Linked DNA regions of Homo sapiens: regions 1, 3 and 4 are each reported to be linked to region 2. The links are microRNA targets in miRTarBase. Many come from high-throughput screens and were not tested one by one. Region 2 holds a microRNA gene; each other region holds the end of a gene's coding sequence.
Evidence for each region. The annotated mature microRNA hsa-miR-4456 reads CCUGGUGGCUUCCUUUU and lies in region 2 at 1,344-1,360, opposite strand. An mRNA with a match to its seed (bases 2 to 7 or 8) in the 3' UTR can be bound and repressed. Matches are read on the target gene's strand: a 7mer-m8 pairs with bases 2 to 8, a 7mer-A1 pairs with bases 2 to 7 and ends in A, and an 8mer does both.

Region 1: the mRNA of BBX is a reported target of hsa-miR-4456. Seed matches in the 3' UTR shown: 8mer at 1,007-1,014.
Region 3: the mRNA of CLASP1 is a reported target of hsa-miR-4456. Seed matches in the 3' UTR shown: 7mer-m8 at 112-118.
Region 4: miRTarBase lists CAPN7 as a target of hsa-miR-4456. Seed matches in the 3' UTR shown: 7mer-m8 at 1,626-1,632.

What each region holds. Positions count from the first base shown.
Region 1 is chr3:107,805,086-107,808,085 of GRCh38, forward strand. BBX (BBX high mobility group box domain containing) reads left to right here. Exons shown (of 18, transcript NM_001142568.3): 18 at 285-3,000. The coding sequence ends at 372. Among named protein-coding and RNA genes, the nearest start is that of LINC00635, 71 kb to the right of the region's middle.
Region 2 is chr5:534,518-537,642 of GRCh38, forward strand. MIR4456 (microRNA 4456) reads right to left here and starts at 1,365; the gene lies at 1,323-1,365.
Region 3 is chr2:121,337,988-121,341,087 of GRCh38, forward strand. It overlaps CLASP1 (cytoplasmic linker associated protein 1), which reads right to left. Exons shown (of 41, transcript NM_001395891.1): 41 at 1-2,960. The coding sequence ends at 2,874. Among named protein-coding and RNA genes, the nearest start is that of TFCP2L1, 54 kb to the left of the region's middle.
Region 4 is chr3:15,251,091-15,254,214 of GRCh38, forward strand. CAPN7 (calpain 7) reads left to right here. Exons shown (of 21, transcript NM_014296.3): 21 at 26-1,826. The coding sequence ends at 170. It overlaps SH3BP5-AS1 (SH3BP5 antisense RNA 1), which reads left to right and starts at 3,094. Exons shown (of 3, transcript NR_046084.1): 1 at 3,094-3,124.

The sequences.
Region 1 (3,000 bases), not on the chromosome of region 2:
TTAGTTGTTTGAGGCCAGAGGGTATGCTGTTGAGTTGTATGAGGGGAATTCAGATATAAAATCTTAGGAAGGGAGACAGAATGGGAAGGAGGAAGGGGAAAAAAAGGATAAGGAAGGGGACAGAAGAGAAAAAACTCTAAAGCAAAAACAGTTTTCATTAAATGATGTAAGTAACAGCAGTAACTGTTAAACAAGATATTGGAACACACTTGTTATTCATCGTCCTCTCCTGTCTCTAATAACATATGCTGAATAAGTGACTTTTTCTTCCTTTTATTTTACAGAGGTCAGAGGTCAACTCCGCTCACCCATGATGGACAGCCAAAAGAAATGCCGCAGGCTCCTGTACTTATTTCCTGCGCTGACCAGTGAAGCGCCCTTTCATTGTAAAACATTGTGCTTTACCTACTACCCTAGCCTTGTCTTTACCGAGGGATGCTAGTGAGTCCAAGTGGTGGAAAATATAGACTGCAAACAAGTGCTTGTTGCCCCACACGGCCCAGATTCACTTGAAGCAGAAGTTAGCATCCTGGGCCAGTTTGTTCTCTCAGAACCCAGAATCTTTGAGGGTAAGGTTATCTGTCTGATACTGAGCAGAAACAGAATGATCCTGGAGCTTTGCTTTCTATTGAAGGCTTTTGACGGTAATAGGTGGTAACTTGGTAAAAGGCTGCCTTTACTGTAGCTCACCCAGCATCTCTTTTACCAACCAGAGAGTGTGAAACTAGTTTCATATATTACCTAGTTATTCTTTCAAAACAAAACAAAAAAAAAACAAAAACTGACGCACTGCACTAGTTATTATTAGATATTCTTAGTCTTTTTTGTACATGGAGATTTAAGTTTAAGATGGTTTATATAATAGGTTATACCTACATTTATATTGTAGAATAAATATTAAAAAGCCTGTTCCAGAGACTCCCAAGCAGCCTGGGCAGGCAGATGTACCATTGTTAGTGGTGTATGCTCGGCCTCGTGGTCCATATATTCTGCACTTTTATATTTGCCACCAGAATGGTAGTTTGCTGGCAAAAAAAAAAAAAAAAGAGAGAGAGAAAAAATTACAACTCTTACAATCTGAATTTTTTTCTTAGCCTTGAGTGACCAAGAAGAATTTGCTTGAGGCAAATTGTGGCAAATATTTTCCCAGACAGGGGAAGAGTCCTGCAGATTACAGATTACTGGTGTTTTCATGCCTTGAGGATTCTTTTATTTTTACATAGGGGTCTAAGTGACCAATGGATTGTTCATACAAACAAAAAAAAAGACAAAAATATTATTCAGAAGTGACCTTAGTATTACTTCACTATTCTAAACACATTGAAGACACTCACTTCATGTGGACTTGGAGCTACAGACCTTTTACATCCATCACAGATTGGCTGGACGGGTTGCAATTGCTATGCACAGCCTGATTGGCACTGCAGGTTTTTAGAGCCATTTTGAGTTTGTGTTGTTTAGGAGGTACTGAGTCAATGATGAGGGAGGTATGCCTGACCAGAGTGGGACTCTCAGTCATAGATCCACCTGCAAGTCTCTGTTTCCTTTTTGTGTTTTGTTGCTTTTGAACATAAAACCAACCATACATAAGCAGCGCCAAGTGGATTAACTGGCTTAGAACATTCAACATATTGACTTAACCACCTGACATTCACAGTGTCTTGTTTCCTAGCAACAGATGCAAAGTGATAAATCAAAATTAGTCTGAGGCTACAGATTTTACAGGGTATTTGTTCTATAGCACAAAGTATTTCCCCACTCTTGCGTCACAGCACAAACTACCAAATTTTAATTATTGGATTCCAGCAATAATTTTTAATGGTTTTCAAACTGGCGGAATTTTGACAGTGCTAGTTCGAGTTTGAAGCTTTTGAATTAGATCTCTAAATGGTGACAGTTTACATGGTTTTATCTAGCTTTCTTATTTATACTTGACTGAATTGTAATGATTTTTTTTCTAATTGTAATTTGACGTAATAGCCATACAAAAAATGACTCTATTCATACTAGGTTTAGCTTCTCATGGTTGTAGATATTACTTCAGTTCCGGTGCTGGAAAATATGTACAACATACTAACAGGATTGAAAAAAAAATAGAGGTTTTTCTTCTTGTTTTTTTTTCCAAAGCAGGTAAAGAGGGTAGCAAAGCATCGGAATGATGTGCTCAAAAATGCATATTCCTGGTGGGGATGGAGGAAGAAGGCATTAGTAAAAGGTTAATCAAACGTTACAACTTAACCCCATTCATGTAGGAATAAATCAAGTGAGCAGTTCCAGACTTTTGCATAATATTTTTACTATGATGCTGTTTTATTAATATTTTCTAAATTTCAAAACAAAAAGTGAATGTTTGAAATTGCTGGGTCCCGATGTTGGTGGCTGTTGGAGTTTTGGACCACTCGCTAGCAGTGATTTGAAGATTATAATTAGCTAAAATCCAAAACAAAAAACCAACAACAAAAATTGTATGGTGCGGAACATGCACCTTGACAATGGTACTAACTTGTTATTCTATAGAACACGTTAGAATAGATCTATTTTTGCCAGAGCACCCTCCTTCAGTCCTCCGATTACATTTCACTAGAGTTCCTTACGAGATTGCTGTATATTCCTGGGACCTTTTTTAAAAAAAAAAAAAGCAAAACAAAAGATTACTTTTTTTCTATGTGATTAATATCTTACTTGATCTGCTTTTCCTAAACCTCAGTGGCTTTTCCCTTAGGCAGGGTTGGGGGTGGGAGGGCAACTTACTGGAGATGACTGTTTTCAGATACTTTAAAACAAACCTTTTTGTAGAAATGCTTAATTTTTAAGCGGTTAGGCACTGAGAGTAGCAGAAATCCTGCAAAGCTTTATAGTTCCTTAGACTCACCTTGTCGATTCTCTGAGTAAAGTCTTGATTTCAATAATTGTGCTTCTCATGCCCTGAAACTGCTGGAGAGGAGTGTTGTTATTTTCAGGTAACAACATTCGTTAGCACAAATATTTCAGACCAATATT
Region 2 (3,125 bases):
GGCCACTGCTCTGTGACCTCCCAGCCCTGGGGCCCTGCAGAGGCACTTGGGCGCAGACAGGGCAGGCCTGAGACGGCACCTGGAGGGAGGCTGGCTGCTGGGACACTGCTGGGGACCAGTGCTCTCCTCCCTGTCCGAGCGGGGCCAGGTGTCCCCTTCAGGCCTGGCCTCTGACCCTGGCCTGTGACCCTGTAGCTCACGCACGAGGACATCCTGAGTTGACCCAACCTGCCCGAGTCCAGCTGCTTGTCCAGACTCCTGCGAGAAAACCCAGAGCGGAAGTGAGGACTCAGGTCAGCACCCCCATAGGAAGGGGGACCCGGGGTGGACGCGGAGCTGAGGGAATGGCATTCCTCAGCAGTGCTGTGGGTGGTGCAGCCCCCTCCGCATCCCCCTGGGACCTAGCAGGACCCCACATGCTCACTTCCGGCCCCCAGCTGTCCCTGGCTCCAGCCCTGGCAGGGCCCCTGTCTTCTTGGGGTGTGTGTTGGATTTTAGGTGTGCGGAGGCCACAGATGGTAGTAAGCTGGGCCCTGAGGATGGCTTGGGAGATGTGCAGTGGGGCGGGGCCCTTGTCTTCAAGCCACATCTCCCTGTGGGAGGGCCCTGAACCAGCCACCAGCAAGGCCGTGTGGACAGCTGGGACCACCAGGCTGGACCCCAGCAGAGCGCTGGTTTCAGCCGCCTCCTGCCCCCGGCCCCTGCCTTCTGGGACCCTCACCTCACCCTTGCCCCCGCCTCCCCAGGGGCAGGACCCCTCCTCCCAGTTGAGAACCTAGAGGCCTCCCCGTTGGGGGTCGTTGTGGGGAACCCAGAGGCCAGTGAGCCTGAGGCCTCCTGTCCCTTTGCAGTCGGACATCATTGCGGGCCGCTGGCACGCGCCCTGCAGCCGGCGCTCGGTCCCGTGGGTGTCTGTGCTCCCCTGTGGGCAACGTGACCCTGGCAGCGCCCAGCAGTGCTCAGTCTGCCGTGTGCACACAGAGCCCCGTGCTGCCCGCTCGCCGTGCTTGGGGGGCTTGTGTGAGAGGTGTGGACTGTGGGGCCTGAAATGTGCTCCGGGGGCACCTGCGGCCAAGGCCCCCTTCCGAGGTCCCGCTGCCCCTCCCAGACTGCACCGTCCCGGATGCCATCGCTGGGGCCCCACCCCGCCCACCCCACCAAGACCTTGCAGGACCGAGCCCGCAGCCCCTTCATGTGCTACCCCCCGCCCACCCCACAGAGACCTTGTAGGATGGGGCCCATAGCCCCCCAACGTGCTCCCCCAGGCACAGGCTGTCCTGGGGTCAATCGGGCTGTGAGGGAGACTTGTCTTGTGATGGACGTGAACCCTAACTTCCTCCCAGAAAAGGAAGCCACCAGGTTCATGGGATGTAATACGGAGCAAGAGTCAGGATGCTGGAGTGCTCTGAGTCACCGTTGGGTGGCCACTCCCCACCCGCAGCCCACCTGGGCAGGGCGAGCCAGGGACGCAGGCGACAGCTTTGGGTGGAAGACAATATGCAAATCAGGACATTTTTCCTCGTGGTTCAGAAGTGCTTCCTTGACAGGGCTTCAGCCAAGCCCCAGGCAGACGCCAGAGCCGCAGATGCAGAGGCCCAAACAGCCTTTGCTTGCCAGGAAATGCCCCCTGGATGTTTAGATTTCGGGAATAATATTTTCAAAAATCAATCTCTCATGCGTCTGTTGTTTCGGCTGTGACAACAAGGGTGTTTTCCTTGGATGTGTGCACAGGGCCCCCAGCTCCCTGCAGCAGAGTAAGCCCTCGGCAGAGACAAAGTGGACTCTGTCACAGCCCTAACAAGCCGACCACCTGCTGGCTCGCCACTTCCTAGCCGGGCCTTTCTCCCTGAGTGTTGTGTGTTAGTGATTCTGTGACTCTGCCTTTCTCCCTGAGCGTTGTGCGTTAGTGATTCTGTGAGTCTGGCTTTTCTCCCTGTCCGTTGTGTATTAGTGATTCTGTGACTCTGCCTTTCTCCCTGAGCGTTGTGCGTTAGTGATTCTGTGAGTCTGGCCTTTCTCCCTGAACGTTGTGTGTTAGTGATTCTGTGACTCTGCCTTTCTCCCTGAGCGTTGTGTGTTAGTGATTCGGTGAGTCTGACTTTCTCCCTGAACGTTGTGTGTTAGTGATTCTGTGACTCTTTCTCCCTGAGCGTTGTGCGTTAGTGATTCTGTGAGTCTGGCCTTTCTCCCTGAGCGTTGTGTGTCAGTGATTCTGTGACTCTGACTTTCTCCCTGAGCGTTGTGTGTTGGTGATTCGGTGAGTCTGACTTTCTCCCTGAGCGTTGTGTGTTAGTGATTCTGTGAGTCTGACTTTCTCCCTGAGCGTTGTGTGTTAGTGATTCTGTGACTCTGCCTTTCTCCCTGAGCATTGTGACTTAGTGATTCTATGAGTCTGGCTTTTCTCCCTGAGCGTTGTGCATTAGCGATTCTGTGACTCTGGCTTTTCTCCCTGAGCGTTGTGTGTTGGTGATTCGGTGAGTCTGACTTTCTCCCTGAGCGTTGTGTGTTAGTGATTCTGTGAGTCTGACTTTCTCCCTGAGCGTTGTGTGTTAGTGATTCTGTGACTCTGCCTTTCTCCCTGAGCATTGTGACTTAGTGATTCTATGAGTCTGGCTTTTCTCCCTGAGCGTTGTGCATTAGCGATTCTGTGACTCTGGCTTTTCTCCCTGAGCGTTGTGTGTTAGCGATTCTGTGAGTCTGACGCTGCACAGGTGGGCGATGCTTTGCTCCGGCCGGCTCACCTCCCCGATGAAAGCCCGCTCAACGGCATCTGCAGGGCACTGCCCACCCCACCGCGGGGCTGAGACACCTTCCCTAGCACGGCCTCGCGTCTACAGAAAGCCGCTGAGAAGGCAGGTGGGGTCCGGCGCTGCCCACCGTTCTCCAGCCGTGCTGGCCACCACTGGGCTCCCAGACCAAGGCCCATGGACTGTCCCCCATGCCTGTCTACCGTGAATACACTCATTGCTCAGTCTCTAACTTCCCTATTTAGAGACTGAGTATTATACACTCAGAAAAATAACAACAGCTCACGGCTGCTGGCCCCTTGCGGGTCCCTACCCGGGTTTCATCTGATACCTGTGGGAACCTGGTGCGGCCAGCCTGGCATTCACCTCCACTCCTAA
Region 3 (3,100 bases), not on the chromosome of region 2:
CCTGGGGGTGTGGGGACCATGCGTGTGAACACAGTGCCAACATAACTATTTTGGTGGCTGATATTTTTTCAGAGCACTTCTTTATTTCCAAACATTATTGTTAGCAAAGTCCTGGTGGGATTCTACAAAGTTCTTATTTGCTGTCCTTTAAAGTGTAACATTACGCTTGATAAATAAAGGGTGGCAGGGAAAGAAAAAGACTGATGAGACAAAGTCAGTTGCATTACCTGCACAGGGTGGTAAGCTAGTGAGGCGCATAGAAAAGGCAGGCCCGTGGCATCGCCGCAGGTCCGGGAAGCACACACAGTGTACTTGAAGGAAGCTGCGTGCCCCGAGGACCGGCTGCACCCTGCCCAGACCCTGGCTGCAGGGGAGGCAGCAGCTTGGAGGAAGCAGGGAGTCAGCCCGCCCAGCCCCGCAGTGGAGCAGCGGGGGTCTTGGGCCCTGGCCAGTCCGGTAGACAGGGAGGCAGAGACAGGCTTAGGTGCTCTGCTCTTTTGTGTTCTGTTTTTCATTGGAACAGGGGCCCTGCAGGGAGGCGGCGGCAAGGCAAGGCAGCTGCAGCTGTCAGGGTCTAGGGGGCGACGGTGGGCTCGGCGCCCTCCCAGTGAGGTGGTGGCGGCATGCGAGTCTCCTCGGCGCGGCGGCAGCAGTTTTCAGATTGAGGCCAAGAGACCTGTGACGTGATTGTATCTCTAAGTCAGGAGACTGAAGACTGGGCGAGTGACATTCAAGGCTAGCCCTTTGTGAGTACTATGAGGACGTCCAGCAATGTTCGAGATCCTTTCTAAGTACACTGGGGACTGGGGTACCTTCTGGGAGTCAAAGAGCTCAAGGAGAAAGGTCTTTCTAACTGCATTAGGAATAAAGAAACTCATGGATAACCTAGCCCGACGCACATTCCTGCAACAAAGGGGTCAACAAGAGACTCCCTAATTCACTTGTAGAGTGTAAAAAAGAAATACCATTAATGACATATTAATAAACAAACAGTACTTATCAACAAAAGACCTGGTCCTGCTATATTTTGAGCCAAAGCTCGTCAGTAATACCCAACCCCTTGAAACGCGTCCCTCAAGTTCCCTAAACAGCAGCAGTGAGGTACCACACATGTGTAGGGTGCACGCACAAACACACACAACACCACACACACACACACACACACACACACACACACACACACGTCAGCACCCTGGCTTTACTGTTCCTATGCACTATGGGGCCTTCATTTTCAGCCCATGTTTCCAAATCAACATCAGTCTTTCCCAGCTTCCTGCATCCAATGCAGAGGGTCAGGGCAGAGGGGTCTGTGGAAATGATGTTAAGAATCACGTGCTCTGGCACCCAGCCTCTGCTTTCAGTCCTAGCAGTTGCAGTGGGCTCTGCACTGCAATAGCAAATACGTTATTAGAATTAATCTCAAAAGAAGCATTTTCCTTATGGAAAAATCAGTTCAATTTATAGGATCTAATACAACAGTAAGAGACAATAGAAGTCCTCATGATTGCATTAAGAATTTCCATTTGGCTTAAGAATTTTACTCAGAATTTATTTAACCAGACTCCAAACCTCTAGTTACTTTTATTGGAGTAATTAGGCTCTAAAGGTGTTTTTAAAAAGGGGGCCTAGTGGTTCGCTGAGGAGGAAGAGAGACTCTAAATGTGTGTTCTTTTTAAGTGTGTTTCTAATCCTGTTTTTCTGCAATCTGCTACACCTCATAATTACTTTTTTCCTTAAACAGTGACTATTTCATCAACAGACATTCAAGGAACTACTTCAGTTTATAAAATTAAAAAAAATTGTGATATCCAGTCTCTCTAGGCTTTTCTTGGCTCTTAATCCCACATTAAACTGAGAAGTCAGAACTAAGATGGTAAAGATGCCATTTACCAGATTAACTGAGACCATGTTAGAACTGAACGGCTTAGGCAGAACTTTGAGGGGAGGAAACAAGTTGGTGCTCAATCTGAATCACCGTGTAGCCCAGAGATGAGGGTCTTGGCAGAGCCCCCATGACAACAGTGTTCCCAAGGATCTCAGCAGTAAAGATGAAAGACTTCTTCTTTATCTTCTGTGCTTCATGAACTGCCATCTCAGGCATCCCTAAATGATGCCATACATTTATCTTATTTTTGTGTCCAGATTTAAACTTGAAGAATTCCTTTGCATGGAAGCTCTGGGGTAGGGACCTTGTCGGTGGAGTCGATTAGGGAGAGCTGGAAGGAGACTGTCAGGGTGCACTCCCAATTCTACGCTGAAAGCCAGGGCAGTCGGCCTCCAGTCTGGATATGACAAGCAAAATTCCCAGCGTTTGTTAAAAGGCCATCTTCAGACTGTTCTTGCCAAGACTTGATTCCCATTTTTAGTAGGTCTCAGAACACAACTTAAAGATATATCACCTTTCGTGGTGTCAGCTGTGAAAGGGGCCCCACACAGACCATACGCACAAGAAAATAGGCTAAGGAGGAAGAACACAAAGTAACACCCCACCCCACCCCCAAATATGTTATTAACTGAAAAAAAAAATGCTACTTTCTACCAAGTAGTGGCTAGAGCGCTCTGATTTTTAAAAACTGCACCCCACACACAGGGTTTCGCCATCTCAGCAGGCTGTACAAGACATGTTTCAGTATGGCTCTTTTCTGTTCTTATTCCTTTTGTTTTGTATGAAGACTGCAATACAGGCCTTGCTTCCTTTACATTCAATACCAGTAAGATTCTACAGAAAAGCTGGAAGGGACCAAAATACTGATTGTAATAAATATTTGTGGGCCTCCTTGTACTGACTGGGCAGCCGATGAAGGGGGTGGGGAAAGGTCTCTGAGAGGCACCACCGATTGCTTCTAGGTCTACACAAGAGACAGGTACTGCCATTAGCTGTGCGTGGAGACATCGGAGGAGGAGCTGCTGTTGCTGTTGGTGGTCTGGGCCCTCTTTATGTATAAGTTTAGTAGCTTCATCTGAAAAGAGAAGATGAAACTGAATTAGCAGGAAGAAAAGCAATCAGAAAGTAGAAAACAGCAAAAAGAATCCCAGGTGACAGTAAGGAAACAGCAAGTCCCTTAGTTCCCTTGGTTGAGGAATTCATTATAAAAACATG
Region 4 (3,124 bases), not on the chromosome of region 2:
TTATTCTCATTTTCTCTAAATATAGGTGTGGGTTTTGCTACCTGGAATTAGAAAATATACCTTCTGGGATCTTCAATATCATTCCTAGTACCTTTTTGCCTAAACAAGAAGGACCTTTTTTCTTGGACTTTAATAGTATTATCCCCATCAAGATCACACAACTTCAGTGATGGAGAAATCTCAAGTTACTGGCTTTTATACTTACCAAACATCAGTTCTTCAAATAAGGACGCAAATCTTCAGGACAGTAAGCAGAACAATCAGAATGGAATTAAATCTCTAAAAACGTGTTACAGTGGAATCTGGTGCTTGTCAGGGTGTTTGGTAAGAACTGTATATAGTCAGAATTACCTAAATCACCTAGAGGTACCGTTTACATGGTTTTGTGTATATAGAGTTGGCTTGCATTTTAGGGGCCATTTTGTATAAAAAGTGCATATGATTAAAATTAGACTCAGTCATCACTGTGAGATGCCTTTGCTAAGAGGATAAAGGAACTGAGACCAGATGAGAAAAAGAAAGGATATAGATTCCTTGAGTGGAATAGTGGGCTAGATTAATATACCGAAATATTTCCATTGTTTCCCTTTTTTGCAGAGCATGTGGAAGTTAAACCTGCTTGATTCTACTATACATCTTGGGCAACTAGTTACCAAATGAATTGTGCCACCATAACTGATTTTAATTTTGCATTATTTATGATTTTAAAATATTTGTTGCCCAGGTGTTATGAAAGAATAAAGCTTTTAAGTATAGACTACCTTAGCATGAAGATGCTCATGCCTAAGAATGAAAATTGTTGAGGTTATCTCCCATTCAATCATGTAGCAAGAACTTAAAGAAATTCACTACTGCAGTTTTTATTTTTAAAAAACAGTAATTGAGATATTGAAGACATTACAATTTAGTTTGTGTGGTCTTTTTTTAAATTGCTGTATCGTTCAGTCTCTTGTGGCAATAGCACTTTGAAGAAAATAGAGAATTTAATATATGGTGATTGGGATATGTAGCATTCAAAAAAAGTGAATTGCCAAGATACTGGTGTCATGTAAATTCCCACTTTACATAAAAACCCATCAGGACAGAATGATGCTCAATATTTTAAAATTCTAAAAATAGGGTGGGATTTTTCATTGTCTCTACTTTATAATTATCAAAACTTATTTTGTATTGCTACTACCTTAAATTGAAATAAAATGTTTATACTTACGGATATTGCATAGTTTAAGTTAGATTTATTGAAAGATTTCATCTGTCGTGTTTCATGTAAATGAGAACAGATTATTTGCATGAAAATATATACTTCAACAAAAATCTGTTCTTTAACAGAGTAGTGGTAGATTATTACACTAATGAGATTTCACTTTGGTAAATACTTCATGCTTTCAGTTTTAGCCTATTAATTTTAGGTGGACAAATTTAACAAGTTTTCTGTTACTTTTTAAAAAGAAAAAATCCAGAACATAAGAACTATATTATGAACACATGATTTGAACCTGTTGTGGTAAAGATCTTGTACAGGATGCAAACTAAAAACCTAATCCCTGCCATCAAATTTATTAGAAGAGACCTATATATGAACAACTTAAAGGCACTGATTTCTATAATAGAGCTCTAAAAACATGCCACCAGTGTATGAATAAGGGAAAGATTAATTTTGGCTGGACCAATATAAAAAATTGTATTTGAAGAATTGATACTTTAACTTGGACCTTGAAGGTAAAGCTTCAAAAGACAGGTTACTGACCATTGAGTGTTTACTATGTACCCAATGTGTATATTTTTCTTTTTAATCTTCCCAATAGCTGAATAAAGTATAGATACTATTATTTGTACTTCTTACAATTGAGGAAATAAGCCTAAGAGATTAAAAGATTTTGCCCAGGGTTCACAAGCCTTCTTCCCTGAGCCCTGATTGAGCTGCTGTGTGTGTCTAATGGCACCCACAGTCACGGCCGTCTAGTCGAGGGAGGGACAAGATCTAGACCCATTGTAGAGGGAGGAAAAACAATCCAGGCCTTTTGGAGGTTCTAAATAACAGACAGACCAGTTGAATTGTTAGAGAGGATGACTCAAGTTTCTAATTCAGCACATGGACAGATGCTCATAGCTTCAGTGAAAGGTAAGTTTTGACACATTAAATTGCCCAGAAAATCCAGATCTGGAATCAACGTGGTATAGTAAGTGAGATCACCCAAAAAGTCAAGAGTCACGTGAACTAAAGATGGTTAAGAACTGATTTGGGGGAAGTTTTTTAGAAAGTATTTCTAATTTAGAAAAAAATACATAGACTAACAGGAGATACAAGAAAACGAGGGTTGGGGGAGGATTAAGAAGCCCAGTGAACAGAATTCCCAGAAGAGTATAATTAAATGTCAGATGTGGTGGAGATAAAGAGGCCACAGTGACAGCAGTAGGGGCAGACTACGTAAAACTAGAAATTTGACTAGGTGATAGTGTGAGAAGGGAGCCCTGGTCAAAAGGTGGTCTGCATCCTTTTCTGGTGTAGGAGACAAGCAAGTGGTAGGCTGATGGGAAAGGGGGATTGAGGCAGGAAACAAGAGAAATTCTTAATGCCCATAAGGAATACTCTAGTGCTACTGACTGACTGCCTAGGCTTTGTCTTTTGTAAAGACAAGGGAAAGAAAGCCCCAGTGTTAGAAAACTCCTTCCCACTTTCATTCTCTGCGAGAAGTACCTAGAAATTTCTAGTTATTAGACTGTATAACTTGACTCTGCTGTAAAAACTTTATCCTAGCTTGGGCTATTTTCCAGATGGTGTTTCTTCTAGGAGGAAAAAGAATTGCCTCAATTGCAGGGAAGTTTTTGCTAATGGTAAGTCAAGCAAGTCTCAGTGTCTTTACTACAGGTAAAAGGGTGTAAGGAGATTTTATGAGAACTGAATGAACCCTGAAGGTCACTAGTCAAATTCAGGTATGCTGTTAAGTGTTCTTGCTTGAGACCCAAATTACAAGACTGGCCAATTTTTGTATTTTTGGTAAAGACTGGGTTTCACTATGTTGCCCAGGCTGGTCTCGAACTCCTGGGCTCAAGTGATCCACCAGCCTTGGCCTCCCAAAGTGCTGGGATTACAGGCATGAGCCCTTGGGCCCAGCCGGCTGTT